Linked DNA regions of Homo sapiens. The protein of the gene in region 2 interacts with the protein of the main gene of each other region in a pairwise test. Each region holds a gene or a part of one and is shown on either strand. Other genes may lie near its edges.

Region 1 (2,393 bases), on a different chromosome or scaffold from region 2:
AAAAATTAATGGAGCAGTGGAGGAGGTTGACACGGGCAAGTGGGGGCTGGACAGGTCCTTGTGGACATCGAAGTACAGTTATTAGATGGGCATCTGTACCTACTCCCCTGGTGTTCTTGGGAGGAAAATGAGTTAGAGGTGAAGATTATGGAGCCATGAGTGGAGTCTGAAGCCACGGATGAAGTCATCCAGGGAGCAAGTACATAGAAAAGAGGGTAGACAGATGCAGGCATATGGGTAAGAGTCAGCAAGAGACGGAGTCTTGCTCTGTCGCCCAGGCTGGAGTGCAGTGGCGCGATCTTGGCTCACTGCAAGCTCCACCTCCCAGCTTCACACCATTCTCCTGCCTCAGCCTCCCAAGTAGCTGGGACTACAAGCGCCCGCCACCACACCCGGCTAATTTTTTTGTATTTTTAGTAGAGACGGGGTTTCGCCGTGTTAGCCAGGATGGTCTCGGTCTCCTGACCTCGTGATCTGCCCGCCTTGGCCTCCCAAAGTGTTGGGATTACAGGCGTGAGCCACCGCGCCCAGCAACAAAACCTATACTCTTAACCTAGCCCCCTGAGAAGCACAGCAAGCTACTGAACCTCTGTGGGCCTGTGTCCTGGTTATCTACTGATACAACAAATCACTCCAAAAGTTAGCATCTTCAAACAACGTTTTATTATCTCTCATGGTGCTGGGCTTTGAATGGCATCAGTGAGGCAGTTCTTACTTTGTTCTCAGACGGTGGCTGGGCTGGAGTCATCTTGAAGCCTTCCTCTCTCATGTCTGACATTTGATACTGCTGTCAGCTGAACATGTACACGTGGCCTCTCTGTGTGGCCTGGGCTGCTTCACAGCATGGTGGTTGGGTCCCAAGAGCTAGAGTCCCAAGAGATAATAAGTGGAAGCTGCTAGTGCTTCAGTCTGGGACTGGGAGACTGGCAGAGCACCACCACCATCATATGCTATTGATCGGTCACAGAGTTTAGATAAAGGCGAGGATAGGATAGAGATGCCACCTTTACTTGGGGCCATGCTTTTAAACCTCATCTACAAAATCTATAGAATAGACATAACCACACAGTGGATGCCTGTTTTTGTTAGCCAAGCCTTGCTCTCCTTTTGGGGATTCTCCCCTCTGTCCCTCTATTCTCACAGGCCCTATGGCCATGCTCTACCACTTCTTGGAACCTGCCCGAAAACCAGATTTTTTCCCCTTGAGTTGGGGTCTCGCTTTGTCACCCAGGCTGGAGTGCAGCGGCAGGATCATGGCTCACCGCAGCATTAACCTCCTAGGTGCAAATGATCTCCCACTGTAGTCCCCCAAGTAGCGGGGACTACAGGCACGTGTCACCATGCCTGGCTAACCGGATTCTCGATGGCAGCTTTTGAACCCAAGTCCCCATGTCTGAAGATCCCTGGACTTTACAATTTGTGAGCCAATAAACTTCCTCCCACTAAGCAGGACTGAATTCAGTTTCTGTAACTTGTAACCAGAAGTCCTTACTACACCTACTGAGGGTGGTTGTGGAGATTAAGTAAATGTAAAATGTGCTTTTTAACAGCAGGTGTTCAGGAAATGGTTTACTGTTATGGAGGAAGTTTATTATGAAGAATCTGGCTACTGGTGGAGGGATTTTGATTTGCCTAAAACCTCAATCAATCAATGATCTGGTTGGGATGAAAACCAAGGATGCCTGGCTCAGAATCTTTTGCTCTGCTTTGCCTTCTCTATTTCTGTGGTCTTGTCAGACAGGCCTACTGCATATAACATCCTATGGGGCAGGTTATGACCTTACGGGTCAACCTGGCCAGGGATGGCAAATACCTGACGCTCACGTGCCCACACTTGAATTCCATGCTCATAAGAGAAACTGCCAAACTATCATGTCAGTATTTCCAAACAGTCTGAAAATTGCTGCAGATCCTCAAAAGGCACTCCAGGCAGCTGCTACTAAAAGTTCTGAGTTGGCAAGTGAAATGAGTCCTGAGGTAGATTTTTTAAATATGGCCATATTTTGAAGCTCCTCCTGTTAAGAAGAATTTGGGCTTAGCCATGTGACTTACTTTGGCCAAAAGATACGTCATAGCAATATCCTCAAGAGCACTCGCATACTGGGCTTGTCTTCTCTTGCGGTTTTTGGAACTCAGCCATGATGTCTAGAATCCTGGGTCAGCCTGCTAGATGCTGGAACGTGTGGCCCAGTTGCCCAGCCAACCACCTGACAGGCGGGCGAGGCCATCTGAGACCAGCCAGTCCCCAGCTGATCTGCCAGCTCACTTCAGCCACACGAGGGCCCAGATGAGATAAGAACCACCACACTGAACACAGCCCAAACTGCCAAGCCACTCACTCAGGAGCTAATAAATGTTTATTAAGGCTACTAAATTTGGGGGTGGTTTGTTAT
Region 2 (3,656 bases):
TTGATCTACTTCACATTTCTTTTCTCCTTTGAGCACTCTGGCTGGTAGAGGATTGCATTTTTTTTTAATTAATTTATTTTTTTTTATTGATCATTCTTGGGTGTTTCTCCCAGAGGGGGTTTGGCAGGGTCTTAGGACAATAGTGGAGGGAAGGTCAGCAGACAAACAAGTGAACAAAGGTCTCTGGTTTTCCTAGGCAGAGGACCCTGCGGGCTTCCGCAGTGTTTGTGTCCCTGGGTACTTGAGATTAGGGAGTGGTGATGACTCTTAACGAGTCTGCTGCCTTCAAGCATCTGTTTAACAAAGCACATCTTGCACCGCCCTTAATGCATTTAACCCTGAATGGACACAGCACATGTTTCAGAGAGCACAGGGTTGGGGGTAAGGTCATAGATCAACAGCATCCCAAGGCAGAAGAATTTTTCTTAGTACAGAACAAAATGAAGTCTCCCATGTCTACTTCTTTCTACACAGACACAGCAACAATCTGATTTCTCTATCTTTTCCCCACCTTTCCCCCTTTTCTATTCCACAAAACCGCCATCGTCATCATGGCCCGTTCTCAATGAGCTGTTGGGTACACCTCCCAGACGGGGTGGTGGCCGGGCAGAGGGGCTCCTCACTTCCCAGAAGGGGCGGCCGGGCAGAGGCACCCCCCATCTCCCGGACGGGGCGGCGGCAGGGCGGAGGCGGACCCCCACCTCCCTCCCTGACGGGCCGGCTGGCTGGGCAGGGGCTGACCCCCACCTCCCTCCTGGACGGGGCGGCTGGCCGGGCGGGGGCTAACCCCCCACCTCCCTCCCGGACGGAGCGGCTGGCCGGGCGGGGGCTGACTCCCCCCACCTCCCTCCCGGACTGGGCGGCTGGCCGGGCGGGGGCTGACCCCCACCTCCCTCCGGGACGGGGCGGCTGCTGGGCGGAGACGCTCCTCACTTCCCAGACGGGGCAGCTGCCGGGCGGAGGGGCTCCTCACTTCTCAGACGGGGCGGCTGCCGGGCGGAGGGGCTCCTCACTTCTCAGATGGGACGGCCAGGCAGAGACGCTCCTCACCTCCCAGACAGGGTCGCGGCCGGGTAGAGGCGCTCCTCACATCCCAGACGGGGTGGCGGGGCAGAGGCGCTCCCCGCATCTCAGACGATGGGCGGCCGGGCAGAGACGCTCCTCACTTTCTAGACGGAATGGCAGCCGGGAAGAGGCGCTCCTCACTTCCCAGATTGGGCAGCCGAGCAGAGGGGCTCCTCACATCCCAGACGATGGGCGGCCAGGCAGAGACGCTCCTCACTTCCCAGACGGGGTGGCGGCCGGGCAGAGGCTGCAATCTCGGCACTTTGGGAGGCCAAGGCAGGCGGCTGGGAGGTGGAGGTTGTAGCTAGCCAAGATCGCGCCACTGCACTCCAGCCTGGGAAACATTGAGCACTGAGTAAACGAGACTCCGTCTGCAATCCCGGCACCTCGGGAGGCCGAGGCTGGCGGACCACTCGCGGTTAGGAGCTGGAGACCAGCCCGGCCAACACAGCGAAACCCTGTGTTTGGTGGAGACCAAAAAAATACGAAAACCAGTCAGGCGTGGCGGCGCGCGCCTGCAATCGCAGGCACTCGGCAGGCTGAGGCAGGAGAATCAGGCAGGGAGGTTGCAGTGAGCCGAGAGGGCAGCAGTACAGTCCAGCTTTGGCTCGGCATCAGAGGGAGACCGTGGAAAGAGAGGGAGAGGGAGACCGTGGGGAGAGGGAGAGGGAGACCGTGGGGAGAAGGAGAGGGAGAGGAGGATTGCATTTTTTAAAAATTGGAGGTACCATTGATTTAATAACTTTTCAGTCAAAAAAGACTACACAAAATACATAAACTTTTATTTATTTTTATTTATTTTTACTTTTTTTTTTTTTTTGAGATGGCGTCTCACTTGTTGCCAAGGCTGGAGTGCAGTGGCGCAATCTCAGCTCACTACAAGTTCCACCTCCCAGGTTCAAGCAATTCTCCTGCCTCAGCCTCCCAAGTAGCTGGGATTACAGGTGCCTGCCACCACGCACAGCTAATTTTTGTATTTTTAGTAGAGACAGGGTTTTACCATGTTGGCCTGGCTGGTCTCGAACTCCTGACCTTTAGTGATCCATCCGTCTTGGCCTCCCACTGCGCCCGGCCATAAACTTTTAAACTAAAGCATGATCTATCGATACATTGCAGAGCTTCTTTCCTTTAGTATCTGAAGGTTTGAGTCAAAGCTGTTTTCCCATCTGGAATCAGTTGCCCATTTGGCTATCCGCCCGAGCGTTGTGGTTTCCTCTCCTGTTCCTGGCCTGCCTTTGTGACTCACTCTGGAGATCACCTTCGAGGTTAATGGCTTGTGGAAGAGTTCCAAGTTTTATCTCTGTCCTAGTTGGTTAAACATCATTTTCTCTTTTTCAAGCAAGTGAAAAGCTTTCAATAGATAGATGTTTATTTCCTAAGCACTAAATGACTCATAAATTAAGTCCCTGTAGATTTGGAAAAACTCCTTAAACTGTATCTAGAGGTCTAGCACTTCCTAGTAGGATAGACAGTCCTTTCTAGATACTGTAACTTTTTTCTGTACCGCTTTGGAGTACAGTCTTTATGAAGTTGTTTGTAAGCAAAAGGGAATAAAATTTAAGCCTAAAGGCTGGGCGCGATGGCTCACATCTGTAATCCCAATGCTTTGGGAGGCCAAGGCAGGTGGATCACCTGAGGTCAGGAGTTCAAGACCAGCCTGACCAACATGGTGAAACCCCATCTCAAAATACAAAAAATTATCTGGGTGTGGTGGCGGCCGCCTATAATCCCAGCTACTCTGGAGGCCGAGGCAGGAGAATCACTTGAACCCAGGAGGTGGAAGTTGCAGTGAGCCGAGATTGTGCCATTGCACTCCAGCCTGGGCGCAACAAAAAACTCTATCTCAAAAAAAAAAAAAAATTTAAGCCTAAAATTCAACCCTGTTACTACAAGTGACTTACCTGAAGTTGCAGTCTGCTGAACAGGTATTTTCCATACACAGCTACGTTTCTCTGTAGACAGCAGTGACAATTCTGTTTCCGTTCATGCCTCTGCCTACCTGCTGGCACATGTCTTTCAATAGCAGCAGTATGCTATATCCTGATTTCACAAATCTTAAAATATGCTAAAATGGGTGTCTTAGACCCAAGGAACTGTAAGTCTTCTCTGGAGGCCTAAGGCTGCTCTGTCAGTCCCCATATCCCCGGGCCAGGCCACGTGAAGCACCAAATCCACTGGGGTCCCTTTTGCCCCTACAGGTCTCCCTGTCTTCCTGCCTCTGTGTCAGCCAGGAGCTCATCTTCTGTGGCTGCACAGATGGGATAGTCCGCATCTTCCAGGCCCATAGCCTGCACTACCTCGCCAACCTGCCCAAGCCACACTACCTTGGGGTAGACGTGGCACAGGGCCTGGAGCCCAGGTACTGCCCTGTGGGGAGAGGGAATGGGAGGGGCCCACCCAGAGTCTGTCCACTGGCATTCATCCATGCTTCCAGATCCATCTATCTGTCTGTCCATCCCACAAATACCCATCATGACTCTCAGCCCTGGGCATTACAAAGCAGAAAAGTCCTTGCCTTCCGAGGCAAGCCTCACAGTGAGAAGTGAGGCTGGGTAGGGGGAAGAAACAGTGAGAAAACAAAGGAATAATAT
Region 3 (3,656 bases), on a different chromosome or scaffold from region 2:
TTTTGTTTTAATATTTATAAAGTATTTCATGTAGGACTTTATAATTGCATGTATACAAAACTTTTTAATGAATCCATTTAGTAACATTATTCCCTTCTGATAATTAGCAAACAATAGGATAAGGAAGTAGCTGTGTATCTACAAACACATGAGTAATTAGTGGTACAAACAAAATTATAATCCAACCCTTCTTTATTTATTTGCACTTGATCTATTAAAATCTTTGCTATCCACTCAAATTTTGTGCTTTTATAGGTGGATAATAGAACATGGCAAGTTGAGATTCCCAGTTTTATTTCCGGCTTTGCAATATTTTCACTGGGGTTTGGGCTTATAATTTCCATTCTCCAAAACTTCACTTCTTCTCTTGTTAAAACAGAATGGTAATTTCTGCCCCTTCCTTTCCTCCTTTGCCAGGGTGATGGTTGTGGTTAGAAGCACACTGGGCTCCTCAGAGAAAGATGCTTTGGGAGCATTAGAACAATTCAGCATCTCCTTCTGAGATGCATTGAGAGTCATGCAAAGAGGCCAGCAGGCCACGGGTAGCTCTGCCAATGCATGGGGCATCTTGCAGCCAAAGTGGGTACAAACAGGTGGGCACAAACAAGACACAAGATTTATTGGGTTTCCCAAGGGCCCTGTGGGAATCCAGTCTAGAGCCAAAGTCTAGAGTCCCTCTGCGCCATACTTCTTTGCTCTGGGTCTAGGCCAGTTAGGAGATTTGAAAGATCTAGTGGAGCCAAGAATGAATTAGCTTCCAATTCTCTGGGGAAGAATAGGTTGGGTCCTTTTGCAATAGGCTTTGGCTTTCTGGACTTCTCTTTCATTGCACTTATCATATTTTGTTGTAAGTGATAATTTAATGTCCTTTTTCTCCATTAGACTCTAAACTCTGAGAGGTCAACCTGTAGCACAGTATCTGGTACATAGTAGATGTTCACTGAAGATTTACTGAATGGATGGGTGAAAGAATGAATGAATGAATGAGGCTTCATCTTCGCCATATATACCATCACAGTATCCCAGAGCAGCCATCTTCATGATCCCTTGGCCTAAGAGTTTTAAGTTCCACTTTGCTTCCCAAAACCCTTTGCACCTTCAGATCTACCAGGATCAAGTCAGTCTTTTAAAAAAATACCAGGTAGTCTTCTGGGAGTGAGGGCCTTGCATCCTCCTGTGTGTTGACATGAGGAGTTATTCAGGAGATCCACTTGCCCATCCTGTGCAGCAGTGAAGCTGGAGGAAACCTTGGTGGCACTCCCTGGGGCCAGTATTTGTTAATCCCTATTTTATATTCCCTGCTCTGATTTCTTCCAGGCCCAGATAATAAGAGGATGGCCAGGAATGTCTTGAAATATGAAAGGCTCTTGGCAGAGAGCCCCAACCACGTGGTAGCTGAGGCTGTCATCCAGAGGCCCAATATACCCCACCTGCAGACCAGAGACACCTACGAGGGGCTATGTCAGACCCTGGGTTCCCAGGTAGGATTCCTCAGGGAAAGAGAAAGGGGGAGAGGCCTGGCTAGAGTTTGAGAAGCTAGAATTGGGATAACATGAGGGGATAGAGCTGATGCATTAAAAACAATAAAGCTCACTTGGGCAGCATCAGAGTGACCACATTCTGTATCTCTTGCATTCCAATTTTTTTATGCCATAGTTCCCCTAAGTTGAGTTTTGCTCCTAGACCCTTCTTCTCTTATGCTCATCCTATTCTTTCCTTCCAGCCCACTCTCTACCAGATCCCTAGCCTCTACTGTTCCTATGAGACCAATTCCAACGCCTACCTGCTGCTCCAGCCCATCCGGAAGGAGGTCATCCACCTGGAGCCCTACATTGCTCTCTACCATGACTTCGTCAGTGACTCAGAGGCTCAGAAAATTAGAGAACTTGCAGAACCATGGGTGAGTGTCCTGAGAACCCGCCAAGAATTTCTCTTTCATCTTCACATGCCTGGAGTTCAGGAGTGTAAGAATAGGCAACCTGAACAACTAGACACCTCAAAGAGCCAAGGAGTTCAGAATGCCAACCATTCCATAAAACTAGTCCATGGTGGAAAAAAATCACAATAGTGCTTGCCTCTAGAGGGAAAGGATTAACTGGATGATGTACAAGAGGATTCTCTGGGGTATTGAAAATGTGCTCTCAATATCTTGTTAGGGACGTGGTACATGTGGCTGTATGCATTTGTCAAAACTCACCAAATGGTCCACTTGAGACCTGTGTATATCATTGTATGTAAGTTTAACCTAAAAAAAGACAAATAAAAAAGAACACTTCAAAAGTGTCAACCATTCTATGTAATTGGTAGAGGTGGGGAAAAGGGTGAAATGACAGCGGCAAGGAGTAAAATCCTAGCACAAATTTACAGAGTTAGAGTAGAAAGCTAAACTTCATTATTTTGTTAAAAAGGAAACCGAGGCCCAGAGAGGGGAAGGGACTTGTTAAGCTCATACATGTAGCTAGAGCCACAGCTAGAACTTAGAGGTACAGTAGTCCCCCTTATTTGCAATTTTACTTTCTGTGGTTTCAGTTATTCTCAGTGTAGTACAATAAGATATTTTGAGAGAGAGAGGTCATTTTCCCATAATTTTATTACAGTATATTATTATTATTATATTTTATTGTTAATCTCTGTGCCTCATTTATGAATTATAAATTATAACATATAATTATAAATTAAACTTTGTAATTCAGTTACAATCATTATTATAATTTCGTTATAAAAAGAACCAAAGGAGGCCAGAATGATCAGGGCTAGCGGGCCCAACGAAGGTGCAGGGCTTCAACTGAGTCTCCAAAGATGGGCAGAATGTGGCGAGAAGTGTTGAGTGAGTGTGCTTTGGGAAAGGGACAGTGACTAGGAAGCAGATATTCAACACAAGCCACTGAGGCATCTGTCTTCAGTTTCCATGGGGGAGCCACTACCATGTGAGCCCAGGGCTGATTCCTGGGAGAGCCACAAACCAGACAGGCATCAGCAGCCCCAGAGAGATGCTTCTAGGGGAAGGAAGTGTGCCAAGGTCTGTGCATGCCAAATGGACGACACGGCCATGAATGACTAAATAGACATCTCTGGGTGGGTCACTTCTCCCATTACCATGGCAACAGGGCTGTTTTAAGGAAAAATTTAGTTATAATGTAATTATGATTATAATTAAATTACAATCATGATTAAATTAAATTACAATCATGATTAGATTAAATTTTGATTGAAGCCATCCCACTGTCTTCACTTGGAGACCCAGCCTGACAGAGCAGCCTCTGTATGGGACATTGCCAGTCTCATGGAAGAGGAAAAAGACAAATGGCAAACATGAGCTGGTTCATAAAGCTTCTGCATGGAAGTGCCAGATGTTACTTCCACCCATGTTTCACTGGTCAGAGCAAAGCATGTGGGCACTACTGCAGTTAACAGCAAGGTTCTAATTCTTCCACAGGGAAAGCACTGCAAGTCACCAAGCCAAGCTGGATGTCAATGGGAAGAGGACATTTAATCCTCCCCCTAGGAAGTGTGCTAAATATTAACAAGAAAAAATGCACCTCTATAAGCATGTTGCCTCTTTAAAGATATTGTCTCAGAATTATTTCTGTCAAGCCAGACATTGTGCCCTTAACATGTGCAGTTCATCCAGGCAGCCATTAGTCATTCGTCAACAG

What was found.
Region 1: the proteins of WDR62 (region 2) and RALY interact in a two-hybrid assay, tested with the Homo sapiens proteins (one large-scale study listed by BioGRID and IntAct).
Region 3: the proteins of WDR62 (region 2) and P4HA3 interact in binary tests that used the Homo sapiens proteins (3 or more experiments, as listed by UniProt).

Annotation. Positions count from the first base shown.
Region 1 is NC_000020.11:34,083,132-34,085,524, reverse strand, and holds the end of RALY (RNA-binding protein Raly), read right to left. Parts: 3' UTR 641-2,393; downstream 1-640. UniProt on the Homo sapiens protein: RNA-binding protein that acts as a transcriptional cofactor for cholesterol biosynthetic genes in the liver. Binds the lipid-responsive non-coding RNA LeXis and is required for LeXis-mediated effect on cholesterogenesis.
Region 2 is NC_000019.10:36,068,293-36,071,948, forward strand, and holds part of WDR62 (WD repeat-containing protein 62), read left to right. Parts: intron 1-3,263; coding exon 3,264-3,424; intron 3,425-3,656. UniProt on the Homo sapiens protein: Required for cerebral cortical development. Plays a role in neuronal proliferation and migration.
Region 3 is NC_000011.10:74,284,053-74,287,708, reverse strand, and holds part of P4HA3 (prolyl 4-hydroxylase subunit alpha-3 isoform 1 precursor), read left to right. Parts: intron 1-1,317; coding exon 1,318-1,481; intron 1,482-1,723; coding exon 1,724-1,900; intron 1,901-3,656. UniProt on the Homo sapiens protein: Catalyzes the post-translational formation of 4-hydroxyproline in -Xaa-Pro-Gly- sequences in collagens and other proteins.